Linked DNA regions of Homo sapiens: region 1 is linked to region 2. Evidence: fine-mapped expression QTL. A gene starts in region 2. The other region holds a variant in brackets. All regions are shown on one strand. Distances are between the middles of the regions.

Region 1 (11,880 bases), 74 kb before region 2:
ATGTTTCAGTTTCTTCCCAGCTTGTACTAATGTTAATGCTAAGGGAAATCTGTGGAGTGAAACTTCTCTGTAGTATAAAATAGCCTTGTATTCCTAAAATTCAAAGTAATATATGTTCACCAAAGAAACTTTTGATAATATCAAAAAGTAGAAAGAAAATTAATTGCCTATTATTCTGTCTCCCAAAGAAAAGCAACTATTTATCCCACAGATTTCACTGGGGACTTCTTTTGTGCCACGTACTAAACTAAGTACTAGAGATAAAAGGTTAAAAGTTACAATTTCTGTCCTCAAAGAGCTCATGGTCCAATTATGAGAAAAATAAACATAATTTTAATTGTAGAGTAAGTGCTAGAAGCATGTACAAGAAGCTATCCATAAAAGCATAAAACATTTTGTTGTACGTTTTTTTTTTTTTGAGATGGAGTTTTGCTCTTATTGTCCAGGCTGGAGTGCAATGGTGTGATCTTGGCTCACTACAACCTCCGCCTCCTGGGTTCAAGTGATTCCCTGCCTCAGCCTCCTGAGTAGCTTGGATTACAGGCATGTGCCACCATGCTCGGCTAGTTTTGTATTTTTAGTAGAGATGGGGTTTCACCATGTTGGTCAGGCCGGTCTCGAACTCCCGACCTTAAGTGATCCACCCACCTCAGCCTCCCAAAGTGCTGGGATTACAGGCATGAGCCACCATGCCCAGCCTTGTTGTACTTATTTTAAGTGCGACTTAATGGAACTTGCTTTTTCAAGAATTCCTTTGGCAAATCTTTTAGGAAATAAGCACCTTCTTTTATAACCTTCTAAATTATTTCTTAATAAATCTAGTTTTCTTAAGATAAAATATGTATATAAATATTTCTAGCATTTAGATTCTAGATGCAGAAGGGAACATGCTAGAAAATACTTCATTTTGTCTAACAGACCTATGACTGAAAGTAATCTATTCTCCATAATTGGTGAAAAGGGAAAATTTGGAGATTTCTCATTTCCAGTTTTACCAAATAAATTCTCAATTTGTGAGACTGGAAACCAGTCCTTCCTCTCATCTCCCCTTAGGTAAAAATATAAAATAAAATGGGTTCAAAGGTAAGTTTCTGAATATCCCAGTGTTTTGATCAACTCACAAGGTTTTTCTGATAATATTAGTGTTCCCAGGACAAATATAGTACCACTCAGATCTGCAAGAACACACTTCTCATGCTGCAGAAAACCATAGAAGCATACAGGAAATGGTACAGCTTGTAACTGCAGTACCAATATAGCTCTATCTGTGAAGCCAAAAATATACTCTTAATTCACAGGCAAAAAATTGGAGCTAATAATAGCTCTAATTTGTTTTCTTTCTATCAAGAATATTAATCTTGCTGCCCTTTTTCCAAAAGTATGAAATCTAAAAGTATTTTGACTTTTCTTCAGTGTTTAATCAATTAAAATGACAGTCTTAATGCTTATAGCACAAAGTATGAATAAAATTTAACTCGAGAATCTTCATGTAAAGAAGACTAGTTAAAGAATGTTATCAGTTTTTATTTGTTTTCCTGAACGTTTACTATTTCCATATTCTGTCAGTTACCTTTTTTTTTCATAATTCTTTATTTAGTGGACATATCAGGCCATGGTCCACGAACTACTAGGCATAAACAACAATCGGATTGATCTTTCCAGAGTGCCGGGAATCAGTAAAGACTTAAGAGAAGTGGTCCTATCTGCTGAAAATGATGAATTCTATGCTAATGTAGGTGGTTTAAATTTTTTTAAATTGTCTTTAGTTGTTTTTATGTAAGAAGATCAATATTGGCTTGTTAGTATAGGGGCAGGCATGGGATTTCATGTGAAAGGATGATAGGGGCATCCTGTGCATAAACTGCCTCTGAAGGGAAGGCAGAAGACTTGGATTCTGACCCTTTAGCAATTTTTTTTCATAGAGATCACGTAGTTATTTACTTCTCTCCCCTCCAGTAGCTGTTTGTGAGAATAGTAATGGTATTCATCAACAGTGTCCCAGCTAATGTCCAAATTTGGTAATTAAAATAGAATTTCCCTGCCCTTCAATTCTGTGTTCCAAATTCTTTTTCACTTCTTTCAAGTTGTCTGAAAGTCAGACTAGTTGATGAAGTGTGCTTCCAACTTTCTTTTTCACAGAATATGTACCTGAACTTTGCTGAGATTGGTAGCAATATAAAGAATCTCATGGAAGATTTTCAGAAGAAGAAACCAAAAGAACAGCAAAAACTAGAATCAATAGCAGACATGAAGGTAAATTGAACATGTACATGAATGACAAACATGTGACAGTTTGGTACTATTCATGTAAGCAACACTTTTGGAATCTTCTGGGTCTAATTTCTACCTTGATTGATTTTATTTGGTTTGAGACTTATTTTCTGTAATGTCTTTAAACAATATAGTGAAAACTTTATGATAAGCCATGTGCTTCTTTCCATTCTTCAGTAATATCTGGACTATTTAAAGACTCAATCTATTGCTGGGAGCAGTGGCTCACGCCTGTAATCCCAGCACTTTGGGAGGCCGAGGCGGGTGGATCACCTGAGGTCGGGAGTTCAAGACCAGCCTGACCAACATGGTGAAACCCCGTCTCTACTAAAAATACAAAATTAGCCAGGTGTGGTGGCGCATGCCTGTAATCCCAGCTACTCGGGAGGCTGAGGCGGGGGAATCGCTTGAACCTGGGAGGCGGAGGTTGGGAGGTTGCAGTGAGCCAAGATCACGCCACTACACTCCAGCCTGGGCAACAAGAGCAAAACTCTGTCTCAAAAAAAAAAAAAAACTCAGTCTACCAACATATACCAGTTCTTCTCTTCTTAAGCATAACAAAATGCCATGTGGCTGAAAGTTGTAGATGCTTTAATCTGGGCTGAAAAACAACCCCCGCTTTCCCCAACCCCCATTCAGTACATGCTTATCCTCAGTCAAAAAATAACAGAACCTCCCATTGATGTTTTTCCCATGGCAGGCGTTTGTTGAGAATTATCCACAGTTCAAGAAAATGTCTGGGACTGTTTCAAAGCATGTGACAGTGGTTGGAGAACTGTCTCGATTGGTCAGTGAACGGAATCTGCTGGAGGTTTCAGAGGTTGAGCAAGAACTGGCCTGTCAAAATGACCATTCTAGTGCTCTCCAGGTCAGTCCAATTTGATGAGCACCTACTATGTGTAAGGCACTGTGCCAGGCAGAGCAAGAGATAAAAAGGCAAGTAATCCTTCTTCATCAACATGGAATTTAGTCCAACAAGGAGCTGACATGAGAACACAAATTAATATTATTTAAGATAGATCTATAAAAAGAGTCACAAGAGAAGTGTAATGTGCAATTCCCAAGGGTTCAGTTAATTAGTATAAGGGCAGCCTAGTCTACTAGAAAGAGCACCAAACTAGAATCAGAAGATCTAGATTGGAGTGTTTGGTATACCACTTACAGGCTTTGTGACATGGAGCTGTTGACTTAATCTCTGAGCCAGTTTCATTATTTGTAAAATAGGTATATTAATACTCATCTCACAGAGTGGTTAGGAAGACTTTAAAAGATAAAACATATATTAAAATGTATTGTCTAAGTTTTTTCATTATTGAAGATCTGCTTTTCATCGCACCAACATATTAATGCCTGCTATATGTATATACTACTGCTGTGAGGATCTGAATACAAAGATGAATAAGATACCACATTACAGTAGGGGAGAAAGAAATTTAAACCAGCAATTGTAATACCAAGCACTATGTACTATATTAGAGGTATTTACAAAGGAATATGGAAATACAGAGGAAGGACAACTGTTTTCCCCAAGGATGAAGCTTCTTAGCACTTCTTAGGGAAAATAACATCAAACAGGGAAAAGGAAGAAACATTCTCAGCAGAGAGAATGCAGGCATGAAGATGTGAAGAAATAAATATTGATATATATATATATTTTCTATATATATATAAAATATTTATATTTGAAATATACATATATTTAAATATATATATGGGAACAGAGAATAGTTCAGTGTGGCTAGTCCAGGGTACAAGATGAGTGGTCTTAGACTGGAAAGACTGACTGAAGCCAGGTTATGGCCATTGGAAGGAAGTTGGGCTTTAATCTTAAAATGATGGGGGCTCCCGGAGGATTTTAGAAGAATAGCAACATAATCAGACTCTGGCCTCAAGAAATGTATAGTCTAGTTGAAGAGACAAAACTAAAGCACAAGAAAAAATTAGATAATGTTTCAAGATGAGAATTAAGTCATAATTGTAATACTGACTGTAACAGGTTTTGAGGTTATTAGGAACAGTTCTTAGAGAAGGCAAGATTTGGATGGACCACAAAAGAATGAATAGAATTTGGGGAAGGAGTTCAGCCAGGAGCAGCAAAAGCAAAGATGTAGAAATATGCAGGAAGTAATAAACAGTTTGACCTGTAGAGAGTGAGTATGAAACAGAATTAGATAAAATTGAATTGGTAAACAAAAAACAGTTTACAAGCTTTATGAAGAGGCTTGTAAGAATTTATACCTGCTGAGATAAGCAAAGAGATCCAGTATAGGATCTTATGTAGAAAGTTGAGGTGAGGAAGGCAGTATTTTAGGAAATGTAACCTAGTAAGGATGCTTTAGAGGTGAAAAAACAGGTCAGAGAGACTTGTAGACTTACAGTGATAGTAGTAAAAATGTACAGCAAGGGGCTGAACTGAAAAACATTTCAAAGGGAGAAGAATTAGACGACAGGCTGGATATAAAGATAGAATAAATCAGAGGTAATCCCATGTTTCCTGAGAAATGACAAAGTATGATGTCACTGACAAGTAATTTAGGACTACGAGTCCTTTAGGAAATAGCCATTTCTAAGCCACTTATAAGAAGCACATTTCCCTGTTAATAGGGCCCTATATTCTAAAGCTTAGCTTCTTTCTTTCCCAGCTACAGTTCCACTTTATTCTATAAAATAATGCCAACCTGTTATATTGGAAACAACTCAGGTTTTGGACCCAGACTGGCTTGGCTTATATCCTACCTCTCCTTACCAAAGTTTCTTTGGGAAAATTACTTGATTTGCCCAAGTCTTGGGGATTATGATTTCAAACTTTCAGACTGTTACGATGATTCAATGAGATATGTAAAATGCTTCACATGTAATAGGTGCTTTGTAAATGTTAGTTCCCTTCCTCTAAGCATGATTTTTTTTTTACACATAGTGCAAACAAAAGAAAGAAGTCTACCTGTGGGTGCTCTAGTTATACCAGGGTCTTTACTGGGACTTATTGTTGTTGGGTTTTGGATCAGAACCTAAAGTCGCATTCTTTTTAATCACTAAATAGTATCCTTTGTAAAGATGTATCCTAATCTATTTAACTTGGCCTTTAAACAACACTACTAATAGTATTTTATAGTTGTTTTGTGGGCCTAATAGAAATGTCCTGATATTTACCACAAAAAATGAGTTTTCTGCCTCTTATTAAATAAAAAACAAAATTGTGTCCCGTAACTAAATTTAAATTTCTTATATTTCTTTATCATTTGATTTTTCCCTTGAAAACAGTAGAACCAGACTTAATCACTAGCCAGTTTTACTGTCTTTATTTGTATCTCTCTACATGTGGAAAGCAATTAGAAAAAGTTCTTGTAATAACTTGTCTGAAACTTTATTTTTGTGTTCACTTTAAAAGAAAAATAGTCACTTTAAAAATATAAATTCTATTTGTGATCCACTTTTTATTTTTAGAACTTATCTTTTGAAGGTTTTCTTGTCTAGGGTATTGGGATTTTACAGTGAGCAGTTGATTTGGAGTCCCCCATCATAAACGACTTATTTGGCAACATAACTTAAATAGTCTATAAAGGGATCTTTTGTTTGATAGTAAGTGGATGTCAGGGGCCTGACTTCTAGAGGGGTTATAGCATTCCTTGGCTTGACCTTAGATGATAATACGTCATGAAGCAATGAAATGAGGTTTGTGAGTAGAGATGGGGTTTGCTTTATTGAATAGTATCATGACAAGAAAAAAAAGCATGTATTGCTAAAAGTTAACTTAAAAATTGCTGCCATTCTAACCATTATTTTGTAGGCTAATGAAAATTTCATTTAGAAAGAATTTCACTAGAACCAAAGTGAAATTTACTACCACTGAAACATATACATATCCTCAGAAGAGATTTATTAATTAGTAATGAAGATTTGCCATACCATGAAGAAAAGCATCTTTAGAAAGTGAGCAATTCCACCCTTACCATCCTCCCTATACCCTGCCCCCCATGCCCAGCCTGTGTTGTCATATCACAGTTTTTCATTTGGAGAGAGGAACCAGTCTATTTTGTATTTTTTCCTGACCTTTCATAAAGATCTCAAATCATCCTGTTAATGATACATAATAAGGACTCAATAAATATTTATTAGAAAAATGAGGAGGAAGAGCTCTATTTGAAGCAGTATAGAGTAGTGGCTAAGAGCTTGGGCCTTTGATGGCTTGGGTTTGAAAATAATTCCTAACCACTCTAAAACTCAGTCCTTTTGTCTATAAAGGGGGAAAAATAATAGTACTTACCTCAGAATTGTTGTGAGAGTGCAATGAGCTAATACATGTAAAACACTTATGGTACTTGGTACTTACAGCTTTCAAGAAATATTAACTACCAACATTAAGAGTATTATTATTTGATGGTACATTTAATTTTCTTAATGGCATCCAAGACATGTTTTTTAGTTCAGTGATAGCCTTGTATCTCTCTGATTTCAGAAAAGTGTTTGGTTTTTTTGTGTGTGTGTTTTGTTTTGTTTTGCCACTCATTAAAATTATAAGAAAAGTGGTTGGGACACATTGAACTGACTGACAATTTTACTTTGATTAATTAAATGTAAAAATGATCCTTTTACTCTAAAACAACATTTAGCCAGTATTTTAGAAATAGTATTGATCAGCAGAAGATCTACTGCAAAGCTCAATTTTATGTTGACTAGTCATTAAGAAAAGGAATACTGGCTCC[G/A]ATGTATTTACCAGTCAGTAGAATTGGGTCTTGTCTGCTTTCTATCATTTTTCCCTGATAAGCTTTTTATATTCCCACAACACTGTTCTCTCAAACTGTTAGGCTCATTTTTGTCAGATCAGCATGTGGAAGTCTTCTGCCAATTCCATCTTACTGTCCTAATCTGTTGGTTTATTTTGTTATTCTCTGACTTTACTACATTAATATAGTAGATAACAAAGAAGGGATCCTGTTCTTTAGGTTAAACTAAAACAAAAAAAAAGACGGAGACTATCTTTATTACCAAGACCAACTGTAATCTGTATAATAGTTTGAAATGTGTGTATGTCATAATGATTTCTTCTTGCTGTGCTGCTTTATCATAGTTTTGATAGAAGAAAACAGAAAAGTAAAAAAAGATTTAGCCAGAAACAATGGAAGAATCTCTAAATATCAGAAAAGAAGAATGGTTTTCTCGTTGATGTCTTATAAATGAATGTTAGTTCCTTTAGGAAACTTGATCTCCAAAGACACTATTTTTGCTTTGCTTTGCTTTGCTTTTCCTATTCCTTGATTACGCCCACACAAATGTTAGAGTTCAGTGCAAGGTTTTCGAATCCTGTCTTCTTAAGTAGATGACAATTTTCTGTTTTGCTCTTTACTCAGTCATTGTTATAATGTGACAGTGTTCTTTTCTAATAGTCACAAGGCTGATGGAAAATTTAATAAGAGAAACCAAAAAATTATGTAATTCAGTTAATTTCCAACAGATAAATACTACCGTGTAGCATATAACTTGCTTTGTAATTATAAGCCTCTCTGATTCTTTTTTCTCCTCTTCTCTGGTTAGTGCCCTGAAATCTCAATGTAATGTATGCCACTGTCAATCAAGTTGACAAGTCAAGTAGTTATGAGGGAAATCCTTCAAAATGAAGTCAAAGGATAAAGTGGGATCAAGGCAGACAAAAAGGTCCTGCGTCTCCAAGGACTGATACAGCTGAAAGAAAAGAAAGAACTCAGCTTGTACCTACAGGTTTCTTTTCATGAGAGAATAGATGCCTCTAGCTAGAACATGGACCTGAGCCATGAGTTGGGTCCTAAGGGCTCAAAAGTAGGCAAAATAATTACTCGCAGTAAGCCTGGTCAGATCTGGGCCAAGTCCTCAGTCAAGAACTAAGAGTCAAGCCAGGCAATCTAAATACCACTACCAAGTCTCAAGGAATGGAAGTGGATTTTTTTTAGGATTGATGCATAATGATTGTACAGATTTATGGAATACAATGTGATGTTTCAATACATGTATACATTGTGTAGTGATCAAATCAGGGTAATTAGCATATCCATCACCTTAAACATCTGTCATTTCTTTGCGATAAGAACATTTAAAAACCTCTCTTATAGCTATTTTGACATATATAATACATTATTGTTAACTCTATTCATGCTACTATGCAATAGAACACCAGAACATATTCCTGCTATCTAACTGTAGCTTTGTACCTATTAACCAATTTCTAACCACCCCTATCCTTCACCATCCCATCCTCTGGTAACTGCTATTCTGCTCTCTACTTCTATGAGTTCAATGAGAACAACTTTTTAGATTCCACATATGAGTAAGATCGTGCACTATTTGTCCTTCTGTGTCTGATTTATTTCACTTAATGTAAGTCCTCCAGGTTAATCTGTTTTGCCACAAATGACAGGATTTTGTTCTATTTCATGGCTGAATAATAAATATATATATATATATATATATGCTGCTATTTTCTTTTCCCTTTTTTCTTTTTTTTTTTTTTTGAGACAGGGTTTGGCTCTATCGCCCAGGCTAGAGGGTAGTGGTGCAATCTTGGCTCACTACAACTTCTGCCTCCCAGGCTCAAGCTACTCTCCCACCTCAGCCTCCCCAGTAGCTGGGACTACAGGTATACACTGCCATGCCCAGCTAATTTTTGTATTTTTGTAGAGACAGAATTTCACCATGTTGTCCAGGCTGGTCCCCAGCTCCTGAGCTCAAGCAGTCCACCTGCATCGGCCTCCCAAAGTGCTGGGATTATAGACCTGAGCCACCGTGCCCGACCTAAATACTGCTTTTCTTGGTCCATTCATCTGTTGATGGACATTTAGGTTGATTTTATATCTTGGCTATTTTGAATAGTGCTGCAGTAAACATAGGAGTGCAGATAGCTCTTCAACATACTGATTTCATTTCCTTTGGATATATACCAAGTAGTTAGATTGCTAAATCATATAGTAGTTCTATTTTTAATTTTTTAAGGAATCTTCATACTATTTTCCATAATGGCTGTACTAATTTACATTCCCACCAGTTGTGTGTAAGGGTTCTTATTTCTCCACGTCATCATCAACAACACTTACTATCTCTAATAAGAAACAGCCAAGAGTCAAGATCCAAGTGAAGGTAAATAGAAAAGGGCAGAGACTGATTACTGCAAATAGTCTTTGACTGTCATCATACCAGTTTTGTGAATTTATAGTTACTTGGATTTCTCAGATTTGCTTAAAAGTACAGAGACAGATCAGCCAGAAAAGGTGGTAAGAGAGTGACTGCAAGGGCAGGAAATGAGACATTGTGCCTATAAGAAAAGTAACAACAGAAATCCCAAATGGGATTTCTTTTCTTTTTAAAAAAATTTTTTAAAATTTTTATTTATTTATTTGAGACAGTTTCACTCTGTCGCCCAGGCTGGAGTACTGTGGCACGTAATCTCGGCTCACTGCAACCTCCGCCTCCCAGGTTCAAGCAATTCTCCTGCCTCAGCCTCTTGAGTAGCTGAGACTACAGGCACCCGCCACTACATCCTGCTAATTTTTTGTATTTTTAGTAGAGAGGGAGTTTCACCATGTTGGCCAGGCTGGTCTCGAACTCCTGACCTCAAGTGATCCACCTACCTCGACCTCACAAATTGTTGGGATTACAGGTGTAAGCCATGGCACCCGGCCCCCAACAGGATTTCTTAATGTTTTAAACTTACGCTGTTGATTGAGATACATACATAATTTGTACCTGAAATTTCTTCATATTATAGTAGAAAATAGTGGAACATTTGAACAGATACCCTAAATGGGCTGTATTCCGTGGCTGCTCTAGGGGAAAGATCCCATGAAAGGAAAAAAATAAGAAAAATCTTACGAATTTGGGATCGAAATCTACAGAAGAGAAGTTTCTCCCTTTTTGATCCCTTAAGGATGATGGTAGTGAAATAGTAACCCAAAAAATCAACAATAGAAATCTCTTTCAGAGAACTCTGTACTTGAAAGCTACATGGGAGGTTCCCCATTATCATCATAGTCCCTAGTCAGTGTGAACAGAAGAGCTCTTAGACATTGGACATGGTTGTTGTCAGGTACAAAAGAGATAATGTACGTGAAAGCATTTTGTAAGTTGTAAAGTAATCATATAGTTGATAGTTATGTCCTCAGAATTCAGTGCCCTTCAAGGCTCTTGCCAGCCTTTCAAACCAAGCCATTTCTTCCTCTGATTTCCATATTTATTTTGATAGTGCCACTGCTTTTGGTCTCTCACACTGGTTCCAATACTTACTGATTCTTCAGGACCTTTGGCAAGTGTCACCTCTGTGAAGTCTTTCCTAATTTCTCAACAACCCAATATACTTTCTCTTCCCCTTTCTCTCCCCTTCCTCTTTTGCACTGATTTTCAGCTTTTGCTTTTTGTTTTGTTTTTTGCATACATGTTTCTGTTATAACACCACATATTTGTTCCTGAAAAACCTCATATTCTATAAAAACATGCACTAAAAAAAGGGTTATGAGAATATAGGGTTATAAGCAGACCACTTAAAATCTACATGACTATAGAAAGAAAGAAAACATTCATATAATTTTTAAATCAGAGCCCTAATAAAAATAGTAACAATTATAATAAAAATACTAGCATGGTTAAATCTCCACCGGCATTTGCACCTAGAAATAGAGCCAGTCCATCCTCTGCAGCCTTATTCCTGGGGCTCATGTTTTCTTCAAATTATAAGGTCTTGAAAATACTCACTTCTCATAAAGACTACTTTGTCAAAATTAAAAATACCATATGGAGACAGCTTTCTTCATCAATCAGTGTTTGATTGTTATTTTGTTTTGTTTTGCTTTTTTACACAGTGCAATATATTTGCATCCTTTTTATTTGCACTTGCCCTTTCCCCATATAGCATAACACAGTGGAAAGTGCAACAGTTCTTGAAGCTACAAAACCAGATACTTCTTGCAGAACACACTTCTGTAGGATTATCATCTTTTTTTCTTAAGGTATTGGTAAGGCTTCCCCTTTAATCATAAGAAAGCCTATCCATTCTGGAAAAATTACATGTGAACCAATATGCCTTCTGTGTTAAACTGACACCATTTCCATATTTATCCATCTCACAGAACTAAAGTACATTAAAGAAACATGTATATAGCAGAATAAATTATATTACTTTGATCATCCTTCACCCCATTGACTGTGAACTCACTGGGGACAGGAATTGTCTTTAACTTATCTGTGTGCCTGCAACAGTGCATGACATACTGCCTTATGGGGACTCAAAAGTATTTGTTGACTTGAATTAAATTATTTGTTCTGCTGCATAATAAATATAAATCTATACTATATGGAAGGTCCTGAATATGAGGATTAAAAAATGTAAACATGGCTTCTCCTGGCCCCCTTTCCTATCGGTACCTGCCTCTTAAAATCATTAAGTACTAAATCTAGAGATTACATGCTATTACATACTCATCTCTGTCAACCATGTTGAGACATGTTCTGATGCTTCTTAGAGATCAAGCCCAGTCTGTGTAAAATTCTACCAACTTGTCTCCATTTCACTGGTCAATCATTAATACTAAGAGAAAGCAGTAGGTTTTGCAAATCAACTAGTCAGTTTTGTTGTGCCGTATTGATTCAAGT
Region 2 (11,880 bases):
AAGCAATCCTCCCACCTCAGCCTCCGGAGTAGCTGGGACTACAGGCATGCACCACCACACCCAGCTAATTTTTTTTATTTTTTGTAGACATGGGGTCTCACTATGTTTCCCAGGCTGGTCTCAAATTCCTGGCTTCAAGTGATCCTCCTGCCTCAACCTCCTGAAATTCTGGGATTATAGGCGTGAGCCACAGTCCCTGACCAAGATTTTTTTTTTTAAGGCAGAGTATAATCTATATCATTTACTGTTAATGCAAGAAAATTTCTAACCCTATCTCCCAGAATTTTCACCAGTCTCTTTTGTTATTTCCTCTCTTAAAGGCAGGGTCTCCCACAACCACCTCTGCCGTAGAATTTCTTCTGTGTTCGATAGTAATCATTTTCTTCCTTCTCAAAGGGCATCCTCTCTCAAAGAGGGCTGGAGCACCTTATGATCACAGGCTGATGTGTAAGAACAGAAGCTAGACCTTAGGAAGACCTCATGGTGGAGGAAATTGGATTCGGGGCAACTCTTTGGACAGGCGTGGGAAAAATCCCTTTCTATAGTCAAGGACGAAGAATCAGGGGAAAGGAAGGGTTAATTTGGAAGATGGGTAGTTATAAATGAGACTCTGGGAATTAGATATGTGGGGAAAAAAAAAACAATATGGTGGAGAACAAGGCTGCTTGGCTTTGTCCATCTTCCCAGGCACTGGAATATACTTGTCCTACTGCTTGCCTCACCCCATCTCCCACCCTCTCCACCAAGGGCTAACCTCTATCAGTGTCTCCTGCTCCCCAGAGCTCCTAATCAGTCTGTATGCAAGGTAGAATAACTCCCTTTCCTTCCCTTCCCCTAAGGAAAACATAGTAAGTTAACTCTCTTCCCCTGGCTACATTCACACACCCAACACTTTCCTCTCCACGGTTTCTGGGCTCTGCTGATAGTCTCAGCTCTGGAGAAGGAGGGGGAGAGGAGGGATGATGCATCATCTTGTATCCCTGTCCCGTGTTTCTGGGAATTGCTCTTGGACACCCCTTGCCAGCACCTTGTCCTACTTCCACCCGTAATCATTCAAGGCCTCTGGCCACTTTCCAGCCCAAAGCCAGGGAACCCTGGAAAGTGGGAGGCCCTGGAGGAGCCAAGCCTTGCTGAAACAAATGGAGGTAGATGTATGAGGCGTCACTCACCTGAATGGGGCCATGTTGACATCTGTCCTCATCTGTCATCAGCCTCCAGGTCCAGCAGCAGTTCAGAAGGATGGGCAGATACAAGACTGTAGATGGTCTGGGTAATGGAAGGGAGAACCACTTCCCCACTTCCAGGTTTCCAGGAACCAGGAGGATAGATGAGTTCACCTCCATGCACACGAGTCCTATTTCAGAACTTGGGAAGTTGGGGACTGTTTTGGAAAATAATTTCAGTCAGGGTGGGTAGATGTCATCCAAGGAAGACGTGAGGCTACTTTTATCTGTTTGTTTAGTTTTAATGAGACAAGTGCTGGTGCTTTTAATTCTCATTCCAGGAAAACGTGACCAGGTTTTTCCTGAGGTGTTCCAACCCTGGGCTCAAGCCACGGAGGGTGGACAGACTGCACGGTCTGGACTTGTAACTAAGTCTCCTCTCTGTAACTTTGGTCCTTGCTAGCCAAAACAAATCCATAAGCCACTGCTTCAGAGTCCCAGAGTTGTAGGAACACCACCTTAGGGGAAAAGAGAAAACATTGTGGTCAGTTTCAGATGAACCTGCGAAGAAATGTTCCTAGAGCTGCTTTGCAGTGCTCAGAAAAGGCTAGTTGGGGTTGGAGAATGTCACTAGGAATGCGGCCTCGATGAGACGTTCAGCAGGAGTGCTAAGAGCTAAATGTTGCTTAAAACCTGCTAAAGGTGGAACCAGAGTGCGGGACGGAGACTATAGCAGGGAGGGCTAAGTTTAGATAGGAGGAAGAGCTTCCTGGCAGTAAAGGGGGCCCAGGCACTCAAACTGGAATAATGGCAAGAAGTCACAGAAGTCACTTTTTTCCAAGTCTAAAGTGTAGTCTCCCAGGGAGAGTCTAAGTGCATTCTTGCCTAGAGATAGGGGGTCTGGAGGAGTTAGTTTGGATTGTCACAGTACCTTAGAGGGAGGAGGAAAGGGTAGGAACTGTAATTGTAGTTTTCAGCTTCTCTGGACAAATTCAGCAAACTGAACACGGGGCTGCCGTCCTGTGGTGGCGATGCTCCTGAAATGAACAAGGAAGATGAGTCTCTATAATTGTACATACCAGAGAAGGAAGCGAGGTGGGGTGGGAGAGCTATACTGCACACATGTGAGTGGGGAGGCCAGAGACCGCCCCTCGTTCCCTCCAGACACCCCGATAACTGGCCCTGCCTTGATCTTCTTTCTGTGGACCATCAAGGGCCATACAGGTCTGTCTTACTGAGGGCAATGGATCAACCATCTACCATGTCCCTTTAAGGACGTGAGCCTTTTTAGAACATGTAAGCTGTGTCCTTAAGGAAAAGAGTGGGGCGGTTGGTGAAGAGAGGCATAGTGGGACTCTGGAAATGGCAGCCTGGCTAAGGAGAGTGAAGAGAAGGGGTTTAAACAGAAACACACCTTAACATTCAAGACTTGGAGCTGCCCTAGCGTCCTCCTCGATGTGAGGACCTTGTAGGCTTTGGGCAGACGGCCCTCTCCTCTCCTGGCGTGCCTCCCTCTCCTCAGGCTTCCTCTGTTTCCCAAGATGATCTAAACTAACAGTCTGGGTGGAGGGGCTAAATAATTTTATCCTCCTCACCTCACCCCAACCCTCCCCTAGGTAAAAGATGAGAAAAATATTCAAGAGGTATTTGACCTGAGTGACTATGAGAAGTGTGAAGAGCTCCGGAAGTCCAAGAGCAGGAGCAAGAAAAATCATAGCAAGTTTACTCTTGCCCACTCCAAACAGCCCGGTAACACGGTATGTTTCTCCTGCCACCTTGGCTGCTGGAACATGGACAGGGTTGGAGGGGGCAGGGGAGAACTCCTTCCCCTCAGTTTCTCTCTCAGCAATCTTGGTTCAGATTCCCTGAATTGCTCTCCTGCTGGCTTTTATCATTTCACCTGAGAATATTGTAGCCATTTCCTTCTTTCCAGGCAGGCCACCCTTTAACCTGTTCAGCCACAAAGATCATCTCTCTATATATCTCTTTATTTTTCTCTGTCTTATACACACACATCCACACATGTGCATATTTACATCCCTTAGAAGAAAATCCCTGTCCTTGTACCCTGATAGGTGGTTGAAGTTCTGAATCTAATTCATCTTGTCTGAGGGAACCCAGGGAAGTTATTCCTGTCACATTCTATTTCTTCAAACATTGAAAGATTTGTATTTTAATACCTATCCTTCATCAGACTTCCTCTAATTATCTCTAATACCATACTAATATTCAGTATCCTTCTTAGCTCCTCCTTGGTCATTTCTAAAACAACCTCCTAGCTATGCATTTTGCAGGAATAGAAGCTGGGTTTCCTTAAGTTATGGATGACTCTGGAAGCAGAATATCTCTCCTTCCTGGAGCTAGGTCTAAGAAAGTGAGATTATAATCTCTTATTTCTTCATTGTCAAGGTGAGGCACCACCTCTAAAACCCTGGCTGAAACAGGAATCTTCCCCTCACAGGCACCCAACCTGATCTTCCTGGCAGTGAGTCCAGAAGAGAAGGAATCGTGGATCAATGCCCTCAACTCTGCCATCACCCGAGCCAAGAACCGTATCTTGGATGAGGTCAGGGGGCTCACTGTGGGGAGAGGGAGGAACGCTGGGGCAGAGGGAACAGCTGTGACCCACTGAAGGGGGAGGATTGTGCAGGCCCCGTTTACTCGCTCCTCCACCAGCTCTACTTCTTTACCACCCTTTTAAAAGCCCTGATCTCTTTCTACCTTCTCTCCAAGTCTCATCTGACACCTCCTCTTCCCCGCTTCATGATGGGGGAGCCAGCCTTGGGTCAGCTTAAAGAGCCCCCTTCGTGTCCAGTAAATCCCCTTGCCCATTCAGAAGCAGTGAATGGAGTGGGCACATGTTCAGGCCTCGGGATGCTGGGTTGGGACAGCGAGTCGCTGAAGAGCACTCATGATTCACAGTACATCTCTTCAGGTCACCGTTGAGGAGGACAGCTATCTTGCCCATCCCACTCGAGACAGGGCAAAAATCCAGCACTCCCGCCGCCCCCCAACAAGGGGACACCTAATGGCTGTGGTATGTAAGACTGTAATAAACATTGCCAAAGGGCCAATTCTGTGTCAGTCCATCTCAGACAGAACTGTATGCCACCAGAGGCATTTGCGGGAGGCCTCCTTGATGCCAAGATCAAAGGCGAGGGAAGTCCTTCCACCCAATGCCTCTGCCAGATCTAAATCAAAAGGTTTTATTCAGCGCCCATTAGGAGTTCAAAAGTCCCAGCTCCCAGTAATGTTACCCTCTTTCGGAGAAAATGAGTTATACCCACAGGAAAATGAAAAATTAGCTACTGTATGGTGGCTGTCTTGATGGGTAACAACATGTAGTACCGCGGGTGTTTGGAGGAGAAAGGATCACAATGAACTCCTGAAACATACAACGTGCTAGTTTCTTTCATGCCTCTGAGCTCTTAAGTCTTCAGAGAGAGAGGCAGGCAGGTATAATGCAGAGAACACAGGCTTTGGAGTTAGAACCTGAGTTGGAACCTCACTGTAATCAGCTACCTGTGTGGTTCCCTGAAGTTGCATGTCTCCAACTGTAAAATGAGGCAGTAATCATGCCTGCCTTGAAGGGCTGCTGTGAGGAATGACTAAAACAACATATTTGGTATTGAATACTCATCATTTTTAGTATTCTGGAAATAAGAGAACAAATTTTATTATAAGGCAAGGGGGCTGAAGTGTGGGACTCAGAGGATGCAGATGGAGGAGGACAGTCGTGCCATGGGGAGCATCCTGTGTGCATCAGATGCAGTTTAATTGCTGAGAGTCCACAATACCAAGGAAGAGGGCGCCCCTCAGGAAGCTTATGGTAGAGTGGAGAATACAGGAAACAAGTAACAAACTAAATCACAGAAGAAGAAACATTCAAGTCACTATCAAAGGAATAAGAAACAGCACATTCAGTAGGAGGGTTCAGTCAAGAGCAGAGGGCTTTGCCAGGCAGGGGGGCTCACACCTGTAATCCCAGTACTTTGGGAGGCTGAGACGGTGTATCACTTGAGGTCAGGAGTTTGAGACCAGCCATGGCCAACATGGTGAAACCCTGCCTCTGCTAAAAATACAAAAAAAAAGAGCTGGGCGTGGTGGTGCACGCATGTAATCCCAGCTACTCGGGAGGCTGAGGCAGGAGAATGGCGTGAACCCGGGAGGCGGAGCTTGCAGTGAGCTCAAATCGTGCCACTGCACTCCAGCCTGGGTGACAGAGCAAGACTCTGTCTCTAAAAAAAAGTACTTCTCATTCAAGGAAGGCTTGTAGAGGAAAATGACCACAGCTTGCATCTTTTAGGCAGTCATTCCGAAAATCCCTCCTGATGACAGGTTCCCCACTCATTCCCCCCTTCCTCCACAGGCTTCCACCTCTACCTCGGATGGGATGCTGACCTTGGACTTGATCCAAGAGGAAGACCCTTCCCCTGAGGAACCAACCTCTTGTGCTGAGAGCTTTCGGGTTGACCTGGACAAGTCTGTGGCCCAGCTGGCAGGGAGCCGGCGGAGAGCGGACTCAGACCGCATCCAGCCCTCCGCAGACCGGGCAAGCAGTCTCTCCCGACCTTGGGAAAAAACAGACAAAGGGGCCACCTACACCCCCCAGGCACCCAAGAAGTTGACGCCCACAGAGAAAGGCCGCTGCGCCTCCCTGGAGGAGATCCTATCTCAGCGGGATGCTGCCTCTGCCCGCACCCTCCAGCTGCGGGCTGAGGAACCCCCAACCCCTGCCCTCCCCAACCCGGGGCAGCTGTCCCGGATCCAGGACCTGGTAGCAAGGAAACTGGAGGAGACTCAGGAGCTTCTGGCAGAGGTTCAGGGACTGGGAGATGGGAAGCGAAAGGCCAAGGACCCCCCTCGGTCTCCGCCGGATTCTGAGTCAGAGCAGCTGCTGCTGGAGACGGAACGGCTGCTGGGAGAGGCATCATCGAATTGGAGCCAGGCAAAGAGGGTGCTGCAGGAGGTCAGGGAGCTGAGAGACCTGTACAGACAGATGGACCTGCAGACCCCGGACTCCCACCTCAGACAGACCACCCCGCACAGTCAGTACCGGAAGAGCCTGATGTGAGGGCAGGGTGGGGTCTGGAACTTGTCGGGTTGGACAGACTCTTATCTCCGTGTTGCTGGATAAAGCTTTTTTATTTACCTCAATCAAAAAAAGAAAACAAAAATGAACTCATTGCTCTTGCTGATGCCTGACCCCACTACAACCCTTATTGCCCCACCTACTTTCCATATGCCCCTCGTATGCCCCTCAGGTTTGAGGAAGTGACCCCGCAGCAGTAGCAGGAAGTTTTTACCCAGCCAGAGAGAGAGAAGGCACGGTAAAGACACAGTCTGACCACTCCACACACCGCCCGCCCCCAAGACGGCACAGGGAGTCCACTGCTGCTCCCAAGGATACAGTGGGCTTCTAAGCTTAGAGCGGGAGGGGGATGAGGATGTTTTCTGTTATGTCCCACCCCAGGCCTTCAGTTTGAGGGTGAAGTTTCAGCTGCCCAACTCTAGTTGTAGGGATGTGGAGGCCAGTGTCACCTGTCCGTGCACATGGAAGTGAAATTTATCCCAGCCCTGAGGAGGATTTGTGGAATTAAAATCTCCCCAGCCAGACACTGGCTTCTCATTCCTAGCAGTCTCTCATTGAGATCGAGCTGCCTGGATTTTCTTACATGAGGTGTTTCTTCCCTTCATCTTCCACACCCTTCCCAACCTTGACTCAAAGATCCACCCTTGTCGGGCGCAGTGGCTCACGCCTGTAATCCCAGCACTTTGGGAGGCCAAGGCGGGTGGATCACCTGAGGTCAGAAGTTTGAGACCAGCCTGACCGACATGATGAAACCCAGTCTCTACCGAAAATACAAAAAATTAGCCAGGCATGGTGGTGGGCGCCTGTAATCCCAGCTATGCGGGAGGCTGAGGCAGGAGAATCACTTGAACCTGGGAGGCAGAGGTTGCAGCAAGCCAAGATTGTGCCATTGCACTCCAGCCTGGGCAACAAGAGCGAAACTCCGTCTCAAAAAAAAAAAAAAAATCCAACCTTGAGTGGATGAGACTAGTTTCATTATTTGATTCAGGGCCCTAGCACAGGGGAACTAGAGACAGACCCCACAGAAGAACTGAACTAAGAATGAAACTGGTGTGTGATGCAAGCTGGGTAGGATGAAGGGGAAAACCAAACATCTGTCCAAGTTCCTCTTTCAGCCATGCTGAGGTTTCCTGTAGCCTCCCCCTCTCCTTCCTCAAACCTCTTCCATCACTAAGCAAGTCCCCACTTTAGAAAAGCATCTGGATGCCCACGCCACCACCCTCCCAGCCACCTCTGAAGTTGCCAGGCTTCCCAACATTCTTGTCTGTGGTAGGTCCCACACAACTCACTGTTCACTCTTTCCTTGGAAGTGTGTGAGATGAGGTTTAGTAACGGTGAGGTCCCCAGAAGAGCTATGAAGGGAATAATTTGATTTTGGGAAAGAAGGGGACAGAGTCTCATGAATCAAGTAAATGAGGGGTTAAAAGCCACATTGAAGTGTGCCTTGCTAGCTGCTTGATCCTCCAAGAGCAGCGGGGCTTCACTAGAGGTAAGGGGAGGAGGGGGAGGAAACGGGGCCAAGTTACATGTAGACCTGGCCATGACGCTGCCCCGATGTTATAGGAAGATGGGATAGGAGGAAGCGGGGGAAAAACCTGTGGGAGAAACAGATTCTTCAGTCCGCATTCTTCTGCTCTAACGTCACTCCTACAACCCATGTAAGCAAAATGGGGGCCTCTGTCCCCTTTCCAGAAATCATCTCTTTCCTTCACAGCTCTTCTCTGGACCTTATCACTGCTGTTAAACCATCCCTAGGGCAGAGGAATTCTTGCTCTCTCTAGTCCCTTGCCACTCTGTCATGGAGATTGTCCCCAGCTCTAGACTGTAGTTACCTAGCCTCTTCCTTGAAGAATGTGTATCCCAGTTGAGTGAGGGAAAGTGTGCAAGAGTGCCACCTTCATGTCATTCTATGGTCTCTTGGGGTATGAGGTGAGAACCCAGGCTTCCAGACTTCCTGTCCTTCAAATAGCTGCACTCTCCACAGCCCTAAGCATGGTCAGCAGAGCCATCCATTGTCACAAGTATTGAAGTCTAAGGTAGAATTATGCTTTCTTTTTACAAGTCTCTATCTTTGTATTTTACCAGCATTTTTCCTTTTCTTTTTTTCTTCCTTGTTGCTCCCACATAATGAAAAAAGACAAAAGCACAAATGACATGTGTATCCCAACATGTCAATTATCTGTGGCTCCCAGGGGAGCCAGAAGATGGAGGGAGACACTAGAGAGGAGAATGACAGGTGAAAGAAGCAGAAAAGAAAGATCGGGGACCTCACAACAGTAAGAGAGGAGCTGGGCACTGTGCTCCTGGGCTTCAGGCTCTAAAACCAACAGCTTCCAGTTCTCCAGCAGTTACTGGAACATCCAGGCCCTAGGGTGGTGAAATGAGCCCAGCTTTGAAACCAGATGGATCTGGATTCAAATTCTAACTCTGTTACTTCTTGATTATGAGGCTCTGGGCAAGGCACATGCTTTCCGAGTATCAGTTTTTTTCATCTGCAAGCTGCAGAGCTATTGGATGGGTGAGGACAATATGGAAAATGCCTGTCAGTCAGAAAGTGACCACTGCAGCTACTGTTACTGGTTTGACTCTGGGCAGTGAGCCGCTAGCTCAGTTGGAAGGAGCACTGTGTGAATGAGGCCACCGGGGTGGGGTCACTGTCACTTAGCTAGATCCAGGCCACAGGCTGTGCTGGACCTCTCTCTTCAGAGGAGAGAGCCAGAAGGGATGAAAGCATGGTCCCTGGTCTTCAAGAACTTTAGAGCTTAGCATGGAACCAGGCTTCCCACTAGAAAAATCGCTTAAGGTGCACCCTTGTGGTAGGCTGCTGGCATGAGTTCTGTTGAAGCATTTGTATTGAACCTGGGCACTGTGACAGGAGGATGGGAAGGTGCTTACGTTCATTTCCCTTCCTCCCAGTGCTTCTCCTCCCTCACTTCATCATTTTAGCCCCTCTGCCTGCAATATTTCCCTTCCGTGCCCCCGGTAACTGTGATGCGTGGCAAATGGGCTGGCTCAGTAGCTGTGTGGGGCAACTTTCTCAGCACACAGCTGCCCCCAGACACTTTCAGGGTGCACTTATTCTCCCTCCCTTTCCACTCCCAACCGCTCTGCTCCCTTCTTTTCTTACACAGATGAAGCAAAGGGAAGTGCCCTCCGGAGGCCCTAGGATGGGGAGACGGGGTAAGGGGTGGAACCCAGGACACAGAGTTGAGAGGGGGTGAGGGGTAGAGGCAGGTAAAGAACGAAATCTTAATTCTCATTTCAGTGACACTTTCCTCAACTTTTCCTGTCCTTCCCCATCAGGTTGTTAGCCAGGGGCCTGAGGAGGGATAAAGGAACTGCAGTCCCGGCTCCCTCCATTAGGAAGAATGTCTGGGGTGTTGGCCTGGAACGCTGATGAGTTGATTTCCTTCTATCTCCACAGCATAGGTTTACCAGGGAGAAAAGAAAGGTGCAAATTTCTCTAACTCCTGCCCTGGTCCTCACATACTATGCGGTTCTGAGCCTAGAGCTCTGTCCCTGGGGAAACAGCTCTCGCCTCCTTCCCCAGCCGCTCTCCCAACCCCTCTGCCAGTAATAAATTTGCCTCATTCTCCCAGGAAATGAGTCTCTAAGAATCTCTCTTCTATCTAAACCTCACAGGCAAGCAGTCCCAGCCCACTTCTGCAACCCTCAAGCTCAGCTACTGCCCCCACCCCCCACTTCGTCACTCCCTTCTCTACGCTGGGTTCCTTTCTCTTTCTGCTTTCTTACTACCTCCCTGTCTCCCAACAGGAGCAGCCAATCCCCAGCCTGCTCTAGAGCCACGCCATATATGGAGAGGTTGGAAAGAAACCCGAGTAAATGCAGGAGCGAACACACACACACACTCATACTCATGCACATACTCATGCACACACAGCAGAGTTTGACCGCCTTTCTGCATGTGACCCTGTGTCTATTTGTCTCTGTGTGACACAAGTCCCACCCACAGAATGAGGAGGCTGTTTGCTATTCCCCACCTTTAGTCGTGCCCCAGGAGACCATCACTCCAACCCGTTGCCTCTGACCTAGATTCCTTGCACTAATTACAAGCCTAACAAGAGCTAACAAACACCCCACTTAGAACAGCTGAGACCCTCGAGGTCAATTAGTGCAGCCCAGCTCTGCTCAGGAAATGAGAGATAGAGCCAGAAAGTCTTGTACATGGCCCACCCCAACCTCACCCCAACCCTGGGGTTGGAAGCAAGGATGGGGAGAATGCAAAAATTAGCAGGACCAGTTTAAAAACGGGGTTTTGGAGGGTTAAAAAGTGTGGAGAACACACTTGTTAAGTGCATTAAGGTTGGGGAGCAATTGGAGAATACAGATTCCCAACTCCTCCTGAACTATCAGAAGTGTAGAGGCTGGTGCAGCTACAGAAACCATGGACATAAGGCGGCTTTCATAAGGACTTAATATGAGGAAAAGTAACTCATAGAAAGGCAAGTAGCACTAGAACTCTTGACCTTTGTCATGGTCTCCGACACCAAATCCCTTCTCCTCTTTGCTTCCTGCTGTGAACAAGTTGGGGTTATCACCCCTGTCCTTCCTGCTGGTTTGGGATGGCTCAGAAATCACCCCTTTCTTTCAGAAATAGTAGGCTCATGTCCGTTCTTTCTTTCCCTTCCTCCAGATATTAAAGCCATGACAGCAAACAGCCCCTTTCTCCTAAGGTTCCTGATTTGAAGTGGCAAAACAAGGCAGTGGCATAGTCTCCTGTCCTATGTCCTTGGCATGCAGGTCAGTTGTCCTAATACCATCCCTAATGTTTTTGGCTCTATCAAGTGGGGGAGGCAGGGAAGAGAACACTAGTGGAATACTCTGTGCACAAATAGGGAAGTGGACTCAAAAACACAATGTTCCTCTTGCCCCAGCCTCCACCCAGCTCTGGCTGCAGAGGGCCGCACTCCGCTTGTACCGCAATTCATGCACAGTCCAGACTTATACAGCAGCCGGCAACCCTAAGGGCAGGATGATTCCGAGACACACCAAATCTGTATGTTGATGTGTTGTCCCAAATTTATTTCTCCAGCCTAAATTTCCCTCTCTGGCACTTAGAGCTAAGTGTCAACTTGACATCTTTACCTGGGTATCTAACATGCATCTTAAATGTACTATAAATGTAATAAATGACTAAATAATGATCCTCAGTGAACCAGCCCCACTCCAGGCTCCTTTGCAATATGAGTTTGCTGTTCCTCCCTTTTGAGAGGTATTGCTTTCTCTCCAACTGCTGCTTGAATCTGGGTTTGCCAGTGACTTGTTTTGCCCAATAGAACAAAGAACATGTGCTGTGTACGTTCCAGCGCCTAGGCCTTAAAGGGCCTTGTAGTTTCCACTCCTTTACTCTCTTAAAATTCAGGTGCTTCTAAGAAGCCTGGGCGAGCATCCTTGCTATGAGACCATGAAACCACATGGCTCTGTCCCAGCATCCAAGCCTCCAGTCAGACACAGCTGGAGCAGCACACAAGCAAGACCAGAGACCAGCCGCTCGGCCAGCCCCCAGAAGTGTGAGAAACTAACAAACCATTGCTGTCTTAAGTCACTAGGTTTTGGGGTGGTTTGTTACTCAGCAATAGATACTAAAACAAAGATTGTTTCTTG

The links. PIP is the estimated chance that this variant, and not a neighbour inherited with it, causes the effect.
Region 1: its variant is fine-mapped to the expression of LINC02988 in whole blood (INTERVAL, PIP above 0.99).

What each region holds. Positions count from the first base shown.
Region 1 is chr1:150,079,745-150,091,624 of GRCh38, forward strand. VPS45 (vacuolar protein sorting 45 homolog) reads left to right here. Exons shown (of 15, transcript NM_007259.5): 8 at 1,598-1,732; 9 at 2,140-2,253; 10 at 2,972-3,139. Among named protein-coding and RNA genes, the nearest start is that of VPS45, 18 kb to the left of the region's middle. The variant G/A (reference allele first, on the strand shown) is at 6,975.
Region 2 is chr1:150,153,287-150,165,166 of GRCh38, forward strand. LINC02988 (long intergenic non-protein coding RNA 2988) reads left to right here and starts at 7,442. Exons shown (of 4, transcript NR_135098.1): 1 at 7,442-7,524; 2 at 10,910-11,016. PLEKHO1 (pleckstrin homology domain containing O1) reads left to right here. Exons shown (of 6, transcript NM_016274.6): 3 at 2,780-2,920; 4 at 3,625-3,729; 5 at 4,099-4,200; 6 at 5,533-6,779. The coding sequence ends at 6,237. RefSeq lists enhancers at 5,570-6,071, 7,202-7,511, 9,860-10,049, 11,677-11,726 and silencers at 6,372-6,421, 8,122-8,191, 8,780-8,849.